Linked DNA regions of Homo sapiens: region 2 is linked to region 1. The links come from fine-mapping of genetic effects on gene expression. A gene starts in region 1. The other region holds a variant in brackets. All regions are shown on one strand. Distances are between the middles of the regions. Region 1 holds the start of DHX8 (DEAH-box helicase 8). Region 2 overlaps CNTNAP1 (contactin associated protein 1).

Region 1 (4,234 bases):
TGCAGAGTTTTCCATTCTATTCATGGGGAGAAAGAGGAAGCGAAATGGGGAGGGGTAGGAAGAACTCAGAGGGTTTAGTAGTGATTCCTTAGGAACCTGGAAACCTGGAGCTTCTGGAGACAGTGAGAACAATGGCTGGGTTTTTCTCTGCCTGTCATTTTTCAGTCCATGATGAGATGTTGAAGAAACAGAGTCCAAAGGTACACCAGTGTAAAAATGTTGCCAAAGTGAAAAGTGGGAGACTGATTTCCTCCTTCCGATTGATTGGAGAGCCATTCACTTTAGGGTGCTTCTGTTTCCTTACTCATCACACAGAGCACTGGAGTGTGGGAAAAATCCCCATCCCACATTAAGGTTGCCACAAAGGTAAAAAAGACCTGAAGCAGAAGTTGGGAGACCTGAGCTTATGACCTTGGACTTACAGCACAGCTGATATTTGGGGGAATAAGGTTTGTTGTTGTTTTTGTGTGTGTGTTTTGTTTGTTTGAGACGGAGTCTCACTCTGTCGCACAGGCTAGAGTGCAGTGGCGAGATCTCAGCTCACTGCAACATCCACCTCCCAGGTTCAAGCAATTCTCCCGCCTCAGCCTCCCTAGTAGCTGGGACTACAGGCACATACCATCACGCCCAGCTAATTTTTGTATTTTTAGTACAGACGAGGTTTCACCATGTTGGCCAGAGTGGTCTTGAACTCCTGACCTCAAGTGATCCGCCCGTCTCGGCCTCCCAAAGTGCTGGGATTACAGGGGTGAGCCACAGTGCCCAGCCCCTGGGGGAATAAGTTCTGAGAGGACACAGGAAAACTGGGGATTGAAAAGCAGGTTTTCACAAGAGTGGAGGCAGCTGGCTCTGTGGGTTCCCAGACTAAGGGGATCTGTGCTTGACAGACCAGAGGCCAGTTCTGTGACCATCATCTCAGCCTTGAATTTTTTTTTTTTTTTTTTTGAGACAAAGTCTCACTCTGTCGCCCATGCTGGAGTGTAGTGGTGTGAACTCAGGTCACTCCAACCTCTGCCTCCTGGGTTCAAGCGATTCTTGTGCCTCAGCCTCCCGAGTAGCTGGGACTACAGGCGCCCACCACCACCACGCCCGGCTAAGTTTTCTATTTTTAGTAGAGATGGAGTTTCGCCACGTTGGCCAGGCTGGTCTGGAACTCCTGACCTCAAGTGATCCACCAGCCTCGGCCTCCCAAAGTGCTGGCATTACAGGCGTGAGCCACTGCACCCGGCCTAGCCTTGTGATATTAACAGTAACTGTCATTTGCGGTGTGCCTACTCTGTGTCACACTCCTTGCAGTTATTCCATTTAGGGTAGAGCAACATTATTCTAGTTTACAGATGAGAAAACTAAGGCCCCAGAGATTGATTTGCCCAAGCAGCCAGCTGGCAGTGGAAGTGCCAGTTTCTTCGTGTGTAAAACAAGAGAAGGCAATCTACTGCCTACTGGCTTGTCAAGGGTCACTTGAGATCGGACGACAGGAACCACAAAGAAGTGAGGCCGGGAATTTGCGGATCCACAGTAAAGCAAGTTTGTCTTTTTCCAGACGTGCATTAAGATTCCTTTTTCAAGTGTTCTAAAGCGCAGGCGCAGGCTGTTTTGCGGTTGCCTCCCGGCGCCTCTTGTGCAGGCCGGGGTCGCCCTCTGCCGACCCAGGGCGGGAGCGCGCTGAGTGAACGTTTCCAGGCCTGAGGGCGGGCGGAGATTTTTCTCGCCTGTAGAGGGCGCAGATCGGCGTGCAGAGTAACCCACTCTAGTTGTCCCTTCCTTAAGCACTTCCTGTTTGATCTCTATGATCCATCCTGTTGGGACTTGATTCGTTCCTCAAATTTTCAATTTACCGTAAACAAAGGGGACGCGCGCTGACCCGGAAGTGAAAGCTGGAACCCGGCCGGAGTAGCTCTGAGCGCCGGCTGTGAGGAAGGAGGTTCTGGGCAAGCTATAGCCATGGCTGTGGCTGTAGCCATGGCGGGAGCCTTAATCGGGTCGGAGCCAGGCCCCGCGGAAGAACTTGCCAAACTCGAGTACCTGTCTTTGGTGTCAAAGGTTTGCACTGAGCTGGACAATCACTTGGGGATCAACGACAAGGACCTTGGTGAGCTCGGGGAGGTCCCTGGGACCTCAGTTTGGGATTGAGGGAAGCGGAAGGAGGAAGGAGGAAGGAGAAAGGTGGTTGATGGACCGAAAGTATGTTCGTGTGAATCTGTCTCTCTCTGTCGCAGACACCGGTGCCCAGGGTACACGCTGCCGTGGCCTCGGCTTGAGAGCCCTCGAGAAACTTTAGAAACTTTCCCAGAGCTGTCAGTGAAGCCCGGGGCGGTCATCTCTGCTTGATTGTTTTTTGTTTGTTTTTTCAGCCTCAATTAAACATGTTTAACAACAACAGCAGCAGATGCTGCGATGACGACGATGATGGCTGACGTTTATTGGGTGCTCACTATGTGCTAGATGCGATGCTCAGCTCTTTATTGACATTATTTTATTTGGTCTTCACGCCACTCTGTGACATAGTAGTTAGCGTCTGTGCTTTTAACTGTGTTCTTTGACCGTTCATCCTGTACTCTTTTTTGAGGCAGGGCCTCGCTCTGTTTCCCGGGCTGGAGTGCAGTGGCACGATCTCGGCTCACTGCAGCCTCCACCTCCTGGGCTCAAGCAGTCCTCCCACCTCAGCCTCCCGAGTAGCTGGGACTACAGGCGGGCGCCACCAAGCTCGACTCATTTTTAAATTTTTTGTAGAGACGGGGGTCTCACTGTATTGCCCAGGCTGGTCTCGAACTTCTGGGCTCAAGCAGTCCTCTTCCCTCGGCCTCCCAAAGTGTTGGGATTACAGGCGTGAGCCATTGCGTCCTGTACTATGTCTTAAACACCAGTCACTAGATGTTTTGGGGCAAACTACATCTGGGGAGCCGAAACTGAGGAATTAGAAAAGGCTAGGGTCCTAAAGCTAAAGCCATAGACAGATGGAGCCTTTATGAAGGTACAGAGGATGGATGGGATCAAGGGCAACCAATGGATGGATTGACCTTTGGTACGTACAGCAAGGCTTCTTCAGTTGTAACAGGAGCGAGGACAGAGAATACAGTTGCAGATTCAGATGAGTTTAGAGATTGGTGGTGGGAAGATGAGTGAGAGAGTTCCAGCCCACTCTTCAGTTTCCTAAATGAAGATAAAGTCATCAACCGGAGGGATGGAAGGGAAGGGGCAGGTGACAGGAGGGGTTAGGGAAGTTAGACGAGTGACCTTTGGTAAGATTCATAGTTTCTCTGAAGCTGTTTTTCTCATCTGTGAAGTGGGACGATGTCTTCACAGGGTCACCATATAGCATTTAGGAAGATGCCCTGCAGCCAGTATATTTTAGTTTACTTTTTTCTCTTGCCTCCCAGCCAAGATGTGTCTGTCCTATATAACTTTTCCCGCAGGATTCTTCTCTTTTAGTTGATAATGAGGTGATAATTTCGTCGGTTTTGCTATCTCGTTAATATGTTTCCTTTATTCAGCAAATATTGAGCTGGGGGCTAGGCATACCACAGAGAACAAGACAGATTTCTGCTTTCAGGGAGCTTACCTTTCTCTCTGTTTTCATTTTAACTCCTAATACCTTGGCCTTTTAGAAGAAACAAAAAAGTTATTGACATTAACCCCCAGTGTTTAATTGTTTTGATGTTAACTTCATTTGTGTACAAAAATAGAGCGAAGTATAAACTTCATAATCTTTTAGTTTATTTATAGCTAAAGATCTCAATTAATTTGCAGAAAACCCACAAATATGCTTTTTCTGTTACATACAGAATTATAAAACCAGTAACATTAAAAGTACTAACATTGGCTGGGTTTGGTGGCTCACGCCTGTAATCCCAGCACTTTGGAAGGCCAAGACAGGCCGATCCCCTGAGGTCAGGAGTTTGAGACCAGCCTGGCCAACATGGCGAAACGCCATTTCTACTAAAAAAAAAAAATACAAAAATTAGCTGGCCATGGTGACTGGTGCTATGCAGGAGGCTGAGGCAGGAGAATCGCTTGAACTCAGGAGACGGAGGTTTCAGTGAGCTGAAATCACATCACTGCACTCCAGCCTGGACGAAAAGAGCAAGACTTTATTTCAAAAAAAAAAAAAAAAAGTACTAATATTGGTTTAATGCAATAGACAGTGTCTTTTGTTGAAACTAAATTGGCAGAGTTGGGTTTAATAACAGAAAGGCATATATTTGCTTCTTTTATGTTTTGTTTGCTGACTTGA
Region 2 (4,234 bases), 790 kb before region 1:
GGGGACTAGGGAGATACAAGACTTAGGGACCAACAGATTTCTGGTGGTGGTTTGGAAGTGTGAGTAGTGGCACATATACTACATGGGGTCAGGATATCCCCATCACCCAGGCTGGAGTGCAGTGGCATGATCTTGGCTCACTGCAACCTCTGCCCCCTGGGCTCAAGCAATTCTCCTGCCTTGGCTTTCCTATAGTAGCTGGGATTACAGGCATGCACTACCACACCTAGCTAAGTTTTGTATTTTTAGTAGAGATGGGGTTTTGCCATGTTGGCCAGGCTGTTCTCGAACTCCTGACCTCAAGATGATCTGCCTGCCTTGGCCTCCCAAAGTGCTGGGATTACAGGTGTGAGCCACTGTGCCTGGCCTTACTGCGTGTCTTTAAGCAAGTCACTACTCATCTCTGAGCCTGTTTCCCCATTTGTAAAATGCAGGGGTTGGATCAGATGATCTCCAGTTTCCCATGGCTGTAAGATTCTGTTCTGTGACAGAGGGGCTCAAGGGGACCTAAAAGTAAATGGAGGGTTGTGAGGGTGGCAGAAACTGAAGTAAGTCTCAGGATGTGTGTATGGATGACATAAAACCTCTGAATTGGGGAGTGAGCAGTGTGGGGGCCCTAACCTCCCTGCTTCTACCTGCAGATATTGGTGGTTTCTTTGAGCCGGGCACCTGGATGCGCTATAACCTACAGTCAGCGCTGCGCTCTGCAGCCAGGGAGTTCTCCCACATGCTGAGCCGGCCAGTGCCAGGCTATGAGCCTGGCTACATCCCGGGCTATGATACTCCGGGCTATGTGCCTGGCTACCATGGCCCCGGGTACCGCCTGCCCGACTACCCCCGGCCTGGTCGGCCTGTGCCCGGTTACCGTGGGCCTGTCTACAACGTTACGGGAGAGGAGGTCTCCTTCAGCTTCAGCACCAGCTCCGCCCCTGCTGTCCTGCTCTACGTCAGTTCCTTTGTTCGTGACTACATGGCTGTGCTCATCAAGGATGATGGTAAGCTCTCCCGGGCTCTCTCACCCCACTCCAGCTTCACCCCGGTGCCCCTAATTCTCCTATTGATTCACAAATACAAGGACCCACGTGCTGTTAGAAGATAGGAGTCATGGGGCCTGAGACCCCAAATTTCTTCTCCCCACCCCACAGGGACCCTTCAGCTGCGATATCAGCTGGGCACCAGTCCCTACGTGTACCAGCTAACCACTCGACCAGTGACCGATGGCCAGCCCCATAGCATCAATATCACCCGTGTTTACCGGAACCTCTTCATCCAGGTATGCATAGAGGGAGGTGAGCCAGTTCAGATCATAACCTCATGGTCTCCGTTGTGGCATCCAGGAAAACATCAAATACTTAATATTTGTAGATCACATTTGAATGTATAGAGGATTTTCACGTGTGTCACCTCATGTAACCCTCACAATAGCTCCAAGGGGACAATAGGCATTTTTTTTTTTTTTTTGAGATGGAATTTTGCTCTTGTTGCCCAGGCTGGAGTGCAATGGTGTGATCTCAGCTCACTGCAACCTCTGCCTCCCGGGTTCAAGCAATTCTTCTGCCTCAGCCTCCCGAGCAGCTGAGATTACAGGCATGCGCCACAACGCCCAGCTAATTTTGTATTTTTAGTAGAGACAGGAGTTCTCCATGTTGGTCAGGCTGGTCTCGAACACCCGACCTCAGATGATCCGCCTACCTCAGCCTCCCAAAGTGCTGGGATTATAAGCGTGAGCCACCGCGCCCAGCCAGACAATAGGCATTCTTATTTAAGTGTTTTACAAATCAGTAAAGAGCCTCAGAAAGTAAAGCGGTTTCAGCTACTCAGGAGGGTGAGGCAGGAAAATTGCTTGAACCTGGGAGGTGGAGGTTGCAGTGAGCTGAGATCGTGCCACTGCACTCCAGGCCTAGGCGACAGAGTGAGACTCCATCTCAAAAAAATAAA[G/C]TGGTTTACCCAAAGTCAAACCGCTGGTAAGCTGCAAAGATGGGGCTTAAAACCAGGGTTTTAAAAAATATATAGGCCAGGTGCAGCGGCTCACACCTGTAATCCCAACACTTTGGGAGGCTGAAGTGGGAGGACTGCTTGAGGCCAGGAGTTTGAGACCAACCTGAGCAACATAGCAAGACCTCATCTTCACAAAGAAAAATATTTAATAAATAAAATAAAATAATAATAATAAAAATATATATACCAAATCCTACATCTAGGCCCAGGGGTTGCCCACTTCAGATTGAGCTAGGACTCACCCAGCTGGCACCGCCAGTTTGGACAGAATGAGAGATCTCCAGTATCTGCCCCCAAGTATATTCCCAGGGTCCACACAGTTCCAGTCCAGCCCACAGGCATCTGCTTCTGGTCCCCGCTCCCTCATCGCCCTCCCCCTCCCCCTCCCCACCTCAGGTGGACTACTTCCCACTGACAGAGCAGAAGTTCTCGCTGTTGGTGGACAGCCAGTTGGACTCACCCAAGGCCTTGTATTTAGGGCGTGTGATGGGTAAGCTGCGGGTGCGGACGCGTTTTAGGCAAGGAGCTGTGGCATATGTTCCTGGATCCTCAAGGAAAGTGAAGGCCCTGGGAATGGCTGAGGGCAGTGGGAAGGATGAGTGGGAAACCTGTGGACAGTGAGAGTGGCAGGGCCTTTGGGTCCAAGTCCCTCTTTCTGGGCCTGCCTCTCTCTCAGAGACAGGAGTCATTGACCCGGAGATCCAGCGCTACAACACCCCAGGTTTCTCAGGCTGCCTGTCTGGTGTTCGATTCAACAACGTGGCTCCCCTCAAGACCCACTTCCGAACCCCTCGACCCATGACTGCTGAGCTAGCTGAGGCCCTTCGAGTTCAGGGAGAACTGTCCGAATCTAATTGCGGAGCTATGCCACGTCTTGTTTCAGAGGTGCCACCTGAGCTTGATCCCTGGTATCTGCCCCCAGGTACATTCCCAGGACACAGAGGACAGAAGGGAGGGATGACACGGAAGGGAATGATTCTTAACATGGAGGAGGCATCTCCTAACTGGTGCTTTCTCCTCTCCAGACTTCCCCTACTACCATGATGAAGGATGGGTTGCCATACTTTTAGGCTGTGAGTAGCACTGATCACTAAGCTGACCTCCCAAGACTACCCTCTGACTGTCAGCATCCTTTCCCTGCCCCTGATCCCCAAGGCTGCAGGATGGCAAAGGCACTAGATGCACAATGGCACAAAGGATGATGAGACAGGCTATGCTGAAGGTGCCATATAACTGGGCAGAGATTTTTAGATGTTTGAGGATGAGACAGGCTATGCTGAAGGTGACATATAACTGGGCAGAGATTTTTAGATGTTTGAGGATGCTACAGATTTTTAAATAAAATATTAAAATGAGACTATAGCTAAGGGATGGGAAAATGGGGATACAGTAACACCTAGAGAGATAAGAAATTGGGGTAACTACCAGGGATGTGGAAAGAGAATATTAGAAACAGAAGGTGGCAGGGGGTAAGCCAGGAATTCAAACCTGCCAGACACTTGAGATGAGTTTAGTGTGGTCGAACAGCTAACTGAGGGTCATACATTATGCTTTTGGCCAAAAGTAAATGTGTGTGTGTGTGTGTGTGTGTGTGTGTGTGTGTGCAGGTGAAATCCCAAAGTGTGTGTATGTATACAGGTGAAATCTCAAAGAGTGCGTGTGTGTGTGTGTGTGTGTGTGTGTGTGTGTGTATACAGGTGAGATCCCAAAGATCTGAATTGTCCCTTTTCTTCTTTTCAGTTTTGGTGGCCTTTCTGCTGCTGGGGCTGGTGGGAATGTTGGTGCTCTTCTATCTGCAAAATCATCGCTATAAGGGCTCCTACCATACCAATGAGCCCAAGGCTGCCCACGAGTACCATCCTGGCAGCAAACCTCCCCTACCCACTTCAGGCCCTGCCCAGGTCCCCACCCCTACAGCAGCTCCCAACCAAGCTCCAGCCTCAGCCCCAGCCCCAGCCCCAACTCCAGCCCCAGCCCCTGGCCCCCGGGATCAGAACCTACCCCAGATCCTGGAGGAGTCCAGGTCTGAATGAGTCAGAAGGGCTTCTGGGACCAATTCCAGCTCCTGACATTCCCCCAGTCCTGCCTCTCCCCCATCCTATCAGGGACATTTGGCTCCTCTTAGCTGGCTCTGCTCATCCAGAGGATATTCCCCCATCCCCCCCCCATCAAGTTTGGTGGGCAGAGCTACAGATGGGACCCAAGGGAGTGGCCGAGCCTCACTGCCTAAACCAAT

The links. PIP is the estimated chance that this variant, and not a neighbour inherited with it, causes the effect. A credible set is the group of variants that fine-mapping cannot tell apart.
Region 2: its variant is the best candidate, but not a certain one, in a credible set for the expression of DHX8 in sun-exposed skin (GTEx, PIP 0.87).

The regions. Positions count from the first base shown.
Region 1 is chr17:43,482,094-43,486,327 of GRCh38, forward strand. DHX8 (DEAH-box helicase 8) reads left to right here and starts at 1,882. Exons shown (of 23, transcript NM_004941.3): 1 at 1,882-2,092. The coding sequence starts at 1,945. RefSeq lists enhancers at 1,575-2,417, 1,717-2,146.
Region 2 is chr17:42,694,880-42,699,113 of GRCh38, forward strand. CNTNAP1 (contactin associated protein 1) reads left to right here. Exons shown (of 24, transcript NM_003632.3): 19 at 642-995; 20 at 1,146-1,273; 21 at 2,395-2,488; 22 at 2,675-2,920; 23 at 3,024-3,071; 24 at 3,739-4,234. The coding sequence ends at 4,031. Among named protein-coding and RNA genes, the nearest start is that of MIR6780A, 11 kb to the right of the region's middle. RefSeq lists a cis regulatory region at 3,824-4,234 and an enhancer at 3,824-4,234. The variant G/C (reference allele first, on the strand shown) is at 1,939.